3 linked regions of the Homo sapiens genome follow. The protein of the gene in region 1 interacts with the protein of each later gene in a pairwise test. Each region holds a gene or a part of one and is shown in the gene's direction. Other genes may lie near its edges. The genes, in order: ZNF366, PINK1 and PEX1.

Region 1 (3,731 bases):
ATCTTAGAGCTGAAGAAAGGCAACCACCTTGTTTAACAGATAAACTACAGAAAGTACGTGATTTGCTCAAGGTCAGTAAATTAATGTTGCTTGTTTTCAGTTTCCTTATAAGGAAAAAGTGTCATCTGTAGCTAATAATTTCTTTAAAACAAATATGTATCCTTTAAGGTAGTAGCCTTCAAATGGGGTCCAAAGACCAACACCATGGCACCACCTAGGAGCTTGTTAGAAATGCAGAATAAATCCCAGCTCCACTGCAGATCAACTGAATCAGAATCAGCATTTTAACAAGATCTCCAAGTGACCAGTTGCACATTCAAGTCTGAGCAGCACTGCCTTATGGTTTTGGACTGTTGCACACAGATTGATCAGGGAATGTAGGACTCTATTCCAAGGAGTTACAAAGCCATTTGTTAACTTTGACCTTGTCCAAGACAACATACCTCCCTATTAAATAGTGGCATTACTGGACAAGTCTCCAATCTATTCAGCTCTGAGCAACAGTAGGCATGATTTCTGTGATCTCTCCCATGAAGTTAACTCCATATCATGGGATCCTAGCACTCTCAGAAAGGGCGAGGGTATTATTTTCAGGTGCTTTCTGAGCACCAATCATCAGAGTTACCTGGGGCAGATTTCTAGGCCTTTCCCCAGATCTAACAAAGCTGAAGAGGGGACCAAGGCTCTGCTTATTATTCAAGCTGCTGGCTCAGGGTAAGGAAGCCCCCAGGGAGGGTAGTGATGAGTATTTCAGGCAGATTACCCTAAAAAATAGTTTAGCTTTTTTCAGTAGCTTGAAAAAAACATTTAAAACCATAGTGCACACATTAGGGCACCGCAGAGTTCTTCCAGGAAGAAAACGTACTCTGCCGCTTTCTTCCTTTGAATGCTTGAGAATAAGGATGAGAAATCTTGCTGTCTGCCCTGTGTCTTCCTCAGGGAGAAAGGGAGGACCCGCTTCTCCAGCATCACAGCCAAAGAGGAGACGCCAGTCCACACGCCTCCCTCTTCCCAGTGAGAAAACTCTGTGGAAAGAATCCTTAGAGTTTCCTTTGCACTGGGGACTCACCGTTCTCTCTTGGAACAGAAATCAAGAGGAGACTATTGTTGGAGGGGTGGGGGAAGGAAGCAGCGCCGGAAGAGAGCGAGGGAGAGGACCGGAATCGCCTCTGGTTTGCTGAAGCCTGGACAAAATGGGGCCTCTGCCTGGATGGAGCCCATGGCATCTCTCCCGTGACTGAGGCCCTCTGGCCACCTTCCATGGAAAGTGCAGGGAGATGAGGAATTTCAGGTTTTCAGCGCTGTTTAATGGAACGCCTACCTCCATAGTGTCCACCACTTGTTTCTTGCTGTTTTTCTAGTTCAGGCATTTTCTTTCCCACGACACGGTGGAATTTCCTCCTCTCACCCCTACTTCCAGAGAACTTTTTCAGTTGTTTTTTTCTTTTTTAAGTACAAAGAAGGGTCTTCTAGCATTATCCTAAAAAATCTATATATTGAACATTTTTAGGGTACCAAAGAGTTCTATGCTTAATCTATAAAGGCGGGGTTGGTGACAGAGCGAGACTCCGTCTCAAAAAAAAAAAAAAAAAAAAAAAGGCAGGATTCCTGAAGTGCTAGAATTTGAATTCTTAGGGTGAGGAATATGTGAAAAGTTCTGAAAGGTTGCTGGCAGGCATATCCAGAATCTCACCTCCTACCTGGCTTTTCAGAGATCTGGGCAAGGAGGGACTATTCCCAGCATCGTCTTTCTTGATATTCAGGAAACAATCAGTGATGCAGCAGGCAAGCAGGCGTTTCCTCCAACATGGTCTGCAGCCCTCCTAGCACCCAGTGATTTCATGGCACAATCACCTGTCTCTGGCTGGGGAGAAGTCTCCAGGGGCAGAGAGTTCTTCTGGTGGCAGCCTGGGCCTCAGATCTAAATGGGGATGTTTGTGAAGGAATAGAGACACCAGTTTTGTGGGTAACAAAGTTCTGCTCAAAACTGCATCATTTTGCAGAAGGCAGTCCCATTCCATGTGTCTTCACATCCTCCATATGTTCAGACACATCCCACTATTTAGAATGACTGACATTGACTCTTTTCCCCCTTGAGTCTCCTAGGAGAGAAATTTCAGCATCACATCTTTAATACATGCAGTTGGGAAGGACATTTAATGGTGAGAAAATCCCATTTCAGAAGGATTAGGACATAAAATGCCAAATGTATTTGCTCTTCAAGCAATATGGATATTTTGGGAGGAGCAGTGGTTTGCTGAAGTGCTATCGCTAGGTACATGGTACATGTACCTTACACTTGTGTATACATACACACACTGCCTACCCAAAATCACTGGTTGTTATAAAAGATTATGAGCCAATGGGTTAGCCCCAAATTGTTTGACTCAAGAATGTAGTATCTGATGTTCAATCTCTTAAACTTCCAAACAGATTTACTGTCCTAATTATATTTTTCTTAGTGATGTTAAAAAGAGTTTGAATATTGTTAGCTAGTGGGGGCAGGGAGAAAATGAGAGAAGATTTAAGTGTTACTACTAGCAATTCATAAAGCACTTCATTCACTTACTGTGTGTTGTTTTGAGAATGTGAGTAACGCAGGAAAGAATGCTACTTGGAGTCAGAGAATAGAGGATTGAGTGTGTGTACTGACACATGAATGGATGGCAGATCAGTGAACTAAAATGTATATGGGAATTTAGTACATGATAAAAATAACATGTATATCAGCGGAGAAAGTTGAATTATGTAATTAATGAGATTGGGACAACTGGGTAGCTATTTGGGAAAAAAATAAACTTATATTCCTACTTGATTTTTTAAATTAAAATAAATTCCAGATAGATGAAAGACTTAAAATGTTAAAAATAAAAATATACTGTGAACTTAAAATTTTGCTTTAAAAAGTCTTAAAGAAAACATAACAACTGTAGAGATATTTTTTTTTCGAATCGCAGAGTAGGAAGGGCCTTTCTAGTTTTACGCAGAGGCCTTAACATTTATCATGCATTTTATTGCATTACAATAAAAAGCTTCTGCAGGGCCAAAACTCAATAAACAAAGCCAAAAGACAAACAAAACAAAAAATGGAGGAAGCATTTGCAACATGTATCACAAAGAGCTTAGTATAAACAGAAAAATGAGCAAATGACATGAAACACATACTTCACATAAAATGAAATATAGTTGGCTTATAAACATGCACAAAATAAAAGATATTTTAATTCATAATAAGAAGCAGCAAATTAAAACTATGAGATACCAATTTTTATTTACTTGATCGGCAAAGATGAAACATTTGTTAACACACTTATCTCTGGGGTTCTGGAGAGAGCTCTCAGATATTTCTGGTGTAACTGAATTAGCAGAACATCTACAGACAGCAATTTGTGAATGTCTATCAAAATGTAACATTGACTCCTCTTGAATTTATCCTATATAAATAAGATGTAAAAAGACATACCTACAATGCAATGTATCTGCCACAGCATTATTTGGACAGAAAATAATTAGAAATAGCACAATTGTCCATTAATAACAGACTGGTTAAATTAGTACAGGGCATCTGTACAATGGAATATTGTGCAGACCTACTAAATGAGGGAACATAATAGAGTCCAGAAATGGACTCTCAGTATATGTTCAATTGATTTGACAAAGGTGTCAATGAGGGGAAAATAGTCTTTTAAACAAATGGTACTGAAACGATTCCATATCCATAACAAAAGAAA
Region 2 (3,500 bases), on another chromosome or scaffold:
CAGCCTCCTGAGTAGCTGGGATTACATGTGCACACCACCACACCCGGCTAATTTTTTGTATTTTTTAGTAGAGACGGGGTTTCACTATGTTGGCCAGGCTGGTCTTGAACTCCTGACTTCATGATCCGCCTCCCTCGGCCTCCCAAAGTGCTGGGATTACAGGCATGAGCCACCACGCCCGGCCTGGACTTTCATTTTTTTAAAAGGTTCAAAGTTATAGTGCAAGGTTAAGTTGCTTACAGATAGCAGGTGCTTTAGGAACCCTCTAGAAGGAAAGTTGCCATGGGCTGGGTCATCAGGGCTGGTCACAGAGGAAGGAGGAGCTTGAGTTGGGCTTGATGGCTGAGCAGGGATGAGCCAGACAGAGCAATACTATAGAAACAGGGGCTGGAAGGATGCTGTGAGCAGCTTTCAGAGGGAGGCGTCCAAAGGATGAGTGCAGGCAGCGTGCAGACCAGCCTGGCAGCAGCCAGAACACAGATAACCTCCTGGGCAGTCTGATGGACAGCCGAGTGACACATGAAAGCAACATATTTTGATGTGGCTCAGAGCAGGGAAGGCACGGCACTGAGAGTGGGGTAGTCTAGAGATGGTGCCTGGTAGGCTATGGCCAAGGGGCATATGCAGAGCTGTGCCTGGCACCCAGGGGTGACTAACCTTGGAAAGGAAGAGCTCAGCAGATCAGACCATTTGAGAGGGAAAGCGGAGCCTGGGTGACTGGAAGAGTGACGTCACCGCTGCCTGAAGCAGGGGAAGACCCACCAGATTTTTGTCACATGGCCTCTTTCCCAGTGCAGCACTGCCCCCAGCACCTGCACCTCCATCTATTTCTGTCTGAACTCTTGTACTCTTGCTACCTTTCTGGACAGAGTAGCCTCATCGGGGCCCTAAGAGGCAGAGAGAGAAAGACAGTACTGAATCCCTCTGCTCTGGGGATGCGCCTGATGTCACCCACTTGCCTGAGAGACCCTCTGAGATCACTGTGGATCACACACTCCTGCTAGTTGCCCAGGAGCCGTCAGCCAAGGTCTTTGCAGAGCGAGCTGTCTCCATAATCAGACACCTCCAGAACTCTGCTGGAGAGTGAAGGCAGCAAGGAGAGGTGCACTGGCTGCGGGACGTGGGGTTTCTGACCTCTCAGATCATTGAGTATTGTGATCCCAGTGAAGCAACAGAGTTTGAGAAAAATCATTCTGAATAATGAGAAAGAAGATGGCCTGGACCCAGGCTGAGCAGTAGAACCTGGTTGGGTTGTGTTTTTCTGGTTTATTGATCTGGTCGACGTGGACCACGCCTTGCTGCACCTCTCTCTGCCTCCCCTGTTTCCCTTTTCTTGGGCCTTCCTAGGCTCCCTGGCTCACGGTGCATTCTTTTCTCATCACAGGCAATTTTTACCCAGAAAAGCAAGCCGGGGCCTGACCCGTTGGACACGAGACGCTTGCAGGGCTTTCGGCTGGAGGAGTATCTGATAGGGCAGTCCATTGGTAAGGGCTGCAGTGCTGCTGTGTATGAAGCCACCATGCCTACATTGCCCCAGAACCTGGAGGTGACAAAGAGCACCGGGTTGCTTCCAGGGAGAGGCCCAGGTACCAGTGCACCAGGAGAAGGGCAGGAGCGAGCTCCGGGGGCCCCTGCCTTCCCCTTGGCCATCAAGATGATGTGGAACATCTCGGTAAGCACCAGGCCTTTCATCTTTAAAGGAGATGTTCTCAAAATGCCCATCTTAGTGGGCCTGGTGAGGATTTTTTCCAGGAAGTAGGTAGGAAAAGACAGATTATCCACAGGAAAGGTGCCTGTATAGTCAGGTTACCTCCCCCTGTTACACAGAAGTCTAAACCAGAATGTTTGAAATTGTATTCTGCCCACAGATCACCCAGAGATCAGGTTCAAAGGTAGATTTTGGCCAGGCCTGGTGGACCATGCCTGTAATCCCAGCACTTTGGGAGGCCAATCACTTGAGCTCAGGAGTTTGAGACCAGCCTGGGCAACATGATGAAACCCCATCTCTATGAAAAATACAAAAATTAGCCGGGTGTGACAGCTTGCACCTGTATGTAGTCTTAGCTACTTGGGTGGCTGGTGGCTGAAGTGGGAGGATCACTTGAGTGCAAGAGGCAGAGGCTGCAGTGATCCAAGATTGTGGCACTGCACTCCAGCCTGGGTAACAGAGTAAGACCCTGTCTCAAAACAAAACAAACAAACAAAAAAAACCCAAAGGTAGATTCTGATTCAGCAGGTCAGGGATGGGGCCTAAGATTGTGCCTTCCCAATAAGCTCCCACGTGATACCAATGCCACTGCTCTGTCAACCACACTTTGAGTAACAAGTGCCTAAACCACTGATTTCTACCTTGATTGGTTAGTTCACCATCCCCTCCTTCCTGCAACCTGCCTCACTGGAGAGGGGGAACTGGATCTCTTTCCTTTAAGCTCACTCTGCAAGCCCACCTCCAGCTCAGAGGCTTGCATGTCAACTCCCTACTCTCAACTCTTGGAAGGACTCAAGACTTTGGGAAATTGAAGAGTATTTTTCCCCCACGAAAACAATTTCTGTCCACTTAATTTATTTACCTTGCCATTGCTAGGTAGGTTTTAAAAATGTATTAAGACCCGATGCTCTGTCTCCTGCCCATCCCTGGGCCCATCCATTCAAGGCCGCAGTGGGAAGTGGCCACAGCCGTTCATGGTGGGCCCTAGAGGATGCAGTTTCTTGTTCTGATTTGGGGAATGAAGGTTATTAGACTGTTGCACTCCAAGCTGGGTTAATAGCTAACAAGTAGCCAAATCCTTTGCCTGTGAAACATCCAGTCTTAGCATCAAAACATGCCCTGGTTGGGGCATGACAGCTGTTGCATTCACAGCAGCTACAAGATTGTTGATTCTTACCAGATCTTCTTGATACAGGTTTCATATGTCCTGAGAGCCCTTCCCAATACAATGAGGACAATAAGGTGCTTTCCCCACTCTTTGGTTTTTGTCTGTTTGTCGTGGGGGATGGAGGAAGGCTGTTCTGTGATTCAGTACAACTTCACCCAGGGTGGAGCATGTCAGGCTCTGGCCTGGCTGCTGAAGGGAGCCTGCAGAATGAGTTAGTGATCCAGTGGTCAATTTTGAACTGGTGGGGACCAGAGGCACCGATGGCAGGAAGCAGCACCCCATATCCTGATCACCTTGGCATCTCCTCCAGCCCTGGCATCTAGGCTGCAAGAGTTTGAGGAGTGTGAAGAATCCTCTGAGTTGGCATGGATGGTACCTCTGTCTGCCTCCCAGGAGTAACTAGTCTCAGCCTGCCAGTTAAGACAGGTCATCTTATCTCGAAGGTCAGAGCCAATTCTAGGCAGTAGCTGCCCTGCTCCAGGTTACAGGCAGGGCTTACAAGGAACTTACCATTCTGCTCCGGCCTGTGTAACCCTGGGTTCCTTGTGGGTGTTCCAGGCAGGTTCCTCCAGCGAAGCCATCTTGAACACAATGAGCCAGGAGCTGGTCCCAGCGAGCCGAGTG
Region 3 (3,731 bases), on another chromosome or scaffold:
AGATCTAATGTACAACCTGACAACTATAGGTAATAAAATTGTATTGGGGATTCATGTTAAATGAGTAGATTTTAACTACTCTTACCACAAAAACACAAAAGTGGGTAACTGTGAGATGATGTATATGTTAATTTACTTCACTATAGTAACCATTATACTATCTATATGTAGCTCATAACACCATGTCGTGTATATTAAATATGCACATTAAAATTTGTTTTTTAAAAAAAGAATTGAGATTTTTTTTAACTAGATATGGAGTGGACAAAATGTAAAGTGAATTGATCTTTTCGTCTGTTGGTTCTAGGAGCTGCATGCTGTTTCCCTTGAACAACATCTTCTAGATCAAATTCGAATAGTTTTTCCAAAAGCCATTTTTCCTGTTTGGGTTGATCAACAAACGTACATATTTATCCAAATTGGTAGGTGCTATTGTAATATTTGCTGTCATATTCTACACTATAGCATTGAGTCCAAAGTAGAAATGAATGTGCACTAATGAGCTTTATTTTCTACACAGTTGCACTAATACCAGCTGCCTCTTATGGAAGGCTGGAAACTGACACCAAACTCCTTATTCAGCCAAAGACACGCCGAGCCAAAGAGAATACATTTTCAAAAGCTGATGCTGAATATAAAAAACTTCATAGTTATGGAAGAGACCAGAAAGGAATGATGAAAGAACTTCAAACCAAGCAACTTCAGTCAAATACTGTGGGAATCACTGAATCTAATGAAAACGAGTCAGAGATTCCAGTTGACTCATCATCAGTAGCAAGTTTATGGACTATGATAGGAAGCATTTTTTCCTTTCAATCTGAGAAGAAACAAGAGACATCTTGGGGTTTAACTGAAATCAATGCATTCAAAAATATGCAGTCAAAGGTTGTTCCTCTAGACAATATTTTCAGAGTATGCAAATCTCAACCTCCTAGTATATATAACGCGTCAGCAACCTCTGTTTTTCATAAACACTGTGCCATTCATGTATTTCCATGGGACCAGGAATATTTTGATGTAGAGCCCAGCTTTACTGTGACATATGGAAAGCTAGTTAAGCTACTTTCTCCAAAGCAACAGCAAAGTAAAACAAAACAAAATGTGTTATCACCTGAAAAAGAGAAGCAGATGTCAGAGCCACTAGATCAAAAAAAAATTAGGTCAGATCATAATGAAGAAGATGAGAAGGCCTGTGTGCTACAAGTAGTCTGGAATGGACTTGAAGAATTGAACAATGCCATCAAATATACCAAAAATGTAGAAGTTCTCCATCTTGGGAAAGTCTGGGTTAGTATAAATTTTATAACTTGGGAGAAATTTTATGTGGCTTAAACATCCCCAAATTATGAATTAGAATAGTATTTCATATATAAATTGAAAATCAATTAAAAAGAAACACAGTGCCTAAAGGCACTTGGGGGACACATTTACGCTTTGCAGTAAAGTCCTTGTTTGGATAAAGATTGTATGTTTTCTGGCCAAGTAAGCTTGAATAGGTACAAGCTTAGATAGGTTCAGGCCAGAGAGGTCAAAATTACTTGCCTGAGATTGCATAGCTAGTGTTACAACTAGGATTCAAACCCAGGCAGATTGACTTGGGGGTTCATCAGGATGGAGTGCCCTACAAAGCCTCCCATCTTTAATGCTTGCAGATTTGTTCCCCAGTTACCGAAAGCAACTTGTTAATATTAGGGAAAAGGGCCAGTGTAGGGAGAGATCCATGGCATGAGGTAACCTTCCTGCTGCATGTGGTGGCACCTGGATTGGAATGCATCCAGGAGCTGCTTACCCTGCCGGTGTCTGCTCTTTAATTTGTGTATAACGGAGAGGAAGTAGACAGGGCAACTAGTGCTCCAGCCCCTCATCCTGGCCACAAATATTAATGCTACCTTTATATGACATAAGTCACTAGTCCATTTATTGGAACCTAAATTTGAACCACTGTAAAGTAAGACTTCATAGTGATAAAGAGAGGAACTTGTTAGGAAAGAGAATAAAATAGAAAGAGAAGGTTGTCTCCTTTTGTAGATTTTTTTTTTTTCTCCAACAGTTTTACCTGTGACCTTTATACAAATAACTGACAAAGCATTAATCTCTTTGGCCTACATCATTTTCTTTTCTATTTTTTTTTTCCACAAGATGGAGTTTCACTCTTCTTGCCCAAGCTGGAGTGCAGTGGCATGATCTGGCTCACTGCAACCTCCGCCTCCCACGTTCAAGTGGTTCTCCTGCCTCAGCCTCCTGAGTAGCTGGGACTACAGGCATGCACCACCACGCCTGGCTAATTTTTTGTATTTTTAGTAGAAACTGGGTTTCACCATGTTAGCCAGCCTGGTCTGGAACTCCTGACCTCAGGTGATCTGCCTGCCTCGGCCTCCCAAAGTGCTGGGATTACAGGCATGAGCCACTGCTCCTGGCCGGCCTACATCATTTTCTAAAGCTCCAGACCATTCTTTTCTTTTCTTTTCTTTTCTTTTCTTTTCTTTTCTTTTCTTTTCTTTTCTTTTTTCTCTTCTCTTCTCTTCTCTTCTCTTCTCTTCTCTTCTCTTCTCTTTTCTTTTCTTTTTTTGAGTTAGAAGCTTGCTTTGTTGCCCAGGCTGGAGTGCAGTGGCACCACCTCCACTCACTACAACCTCCACCTCCCAGGTTCAAATGATTCTCCTGCCTCAGCCTTCAGAGTAGCTGGGACTACAAGTGTGCGCCACCACTCCTGGCTAATTTTTGTATTTTTAGTAGGGACGAGGTTTCACCATGTTGGCCAGGCTAGTCTTGAACTCCTGGTCTCAAGTGATCCGCCTGCCTCAGTCTCCCAAGGTGCTGGGATTACAGGCGTGAGCCACTGTGCCTGGCCTCAGATCATTATTTTCTGTTAGCTTTAAACTGTCCGTTCAGGAGATCCCACTGCATCCTCAAATTCAAAATATCTAACACTGAGCTTATGATTTAGCTGGTTCTGTCATTAGATGGGAATATCCTTTTATTTCCTTGAAATTATATGGTGAGAACAGGGAGAAGTGCTGATGGTAAAGTCCTGTGATTAAGATAGCAATAAGGACTCCGCCCTTCCCACTCCACTGAAGGTTGAAGAGCCATGGACAATGAGAAGTCACAGTAGGTGAAATCAGGTACTAAAATGGACTTGGCTTGAGAGATCAAAATTGATCACTTGGTGATACAACTAACAAATTCATGTTAACTTGAACCTTTATTACCCTGTGAAGCATGGTGATTAAAAAAAAACAACAAACAAACAGGAAACTTGATTGTTAAATTCTCTTTAAGTCAGAATATGTACCTTAGAGTTTTTATTTATGCTTTTGTCTACCATTAATATGTCTGCACCTGCTCTTTAGAAGTTAATAGAGAGTAAAGTCGTCTTTATGTCTTTCAGTGCTTACTTATATTTGGGAAGTTGAGAAAAATTTTTAACATCATTATTGATATATATATATATATATATATATATATATATATATATATATATATATATATATAGATAATTTTTTTTTTTTTCTTGAGACGGAGTCTCACTCTGTCGCCCAGGCCGGAGTGTGGTGGCGATCTCCACTCAATGCAAGCTCTGCCTCCCAGGTTCAAGCGATTCTCTTGCCTCAGCCTCCCGAGTAGCTAGGATACAGGCTCCCACCACCACGCCTGGCTAATTTTTGTAGTTTTAGTAGAGACGAGGTTTCACCATATTGGCCACGCTGGTCTCAAACTCCTGACCTTGT

Evidence for each region.
Region 2: the proteins of ZNF366 (region 1) and PINK1 interact in binary tests that used the Homo sapiens proteins (3 or more experiments, as listed by UniProt).
Region 3: the proteins of ZNF366 (region 1) and PEX1 interact in binary tests that used the Homo sapiens proteins (3 or more experiments, as listed by UniProt).

What each region holds. Positions count from the first base shown.
Region 1 is NC_000005.10:72,497,347-72,501,077, reverse strand, and holds part of ZNF366 (zinc finger protein 366), read left to right. Parts: intron 1-3,731. UniProt on the Homo sapiens protein: Has transcriptional repression activity. Acts as a corepressor of ESR1; the function seems to involve CTBP1 and histone deacetylases.
Region 2 is NC_000001.11:20,636,458-20,639,957, forward strand, and holds part of PINK1 (serine/threonine-protein kinase PINK1, mitochondrial precursor), read left to right. Parts: intron 1-1,384; coding exon 1,385-1,672; intron 1,673-3,434; coding exon 3,435-3,500. UniProt on the Homo sapiens protein: Serine/threonine-protein kinase which acts as a sensor of mitochondrial damage and protects against mitochondrial dysfunction during cellular stress.
Region 3 is NC_000007.14:92,514,832-92,518,562, reverse strand, and holds part of PEX1 (peroxisomal ATPase PEX1), read left to right. Parts: intron 1-307; coding exon 308-422; intron 423-520; coding exon 521-1,287; intron 1,288-3,731. UniProt on the Homo sapiens protein: Component of the PEX1-PEX6 AAA ATPase complex, a protein dislocase complex that mediates the ATP-dependent extraction of the PEX5 receptor from peroxisomal membranes, an essential step for PEX5 recycling.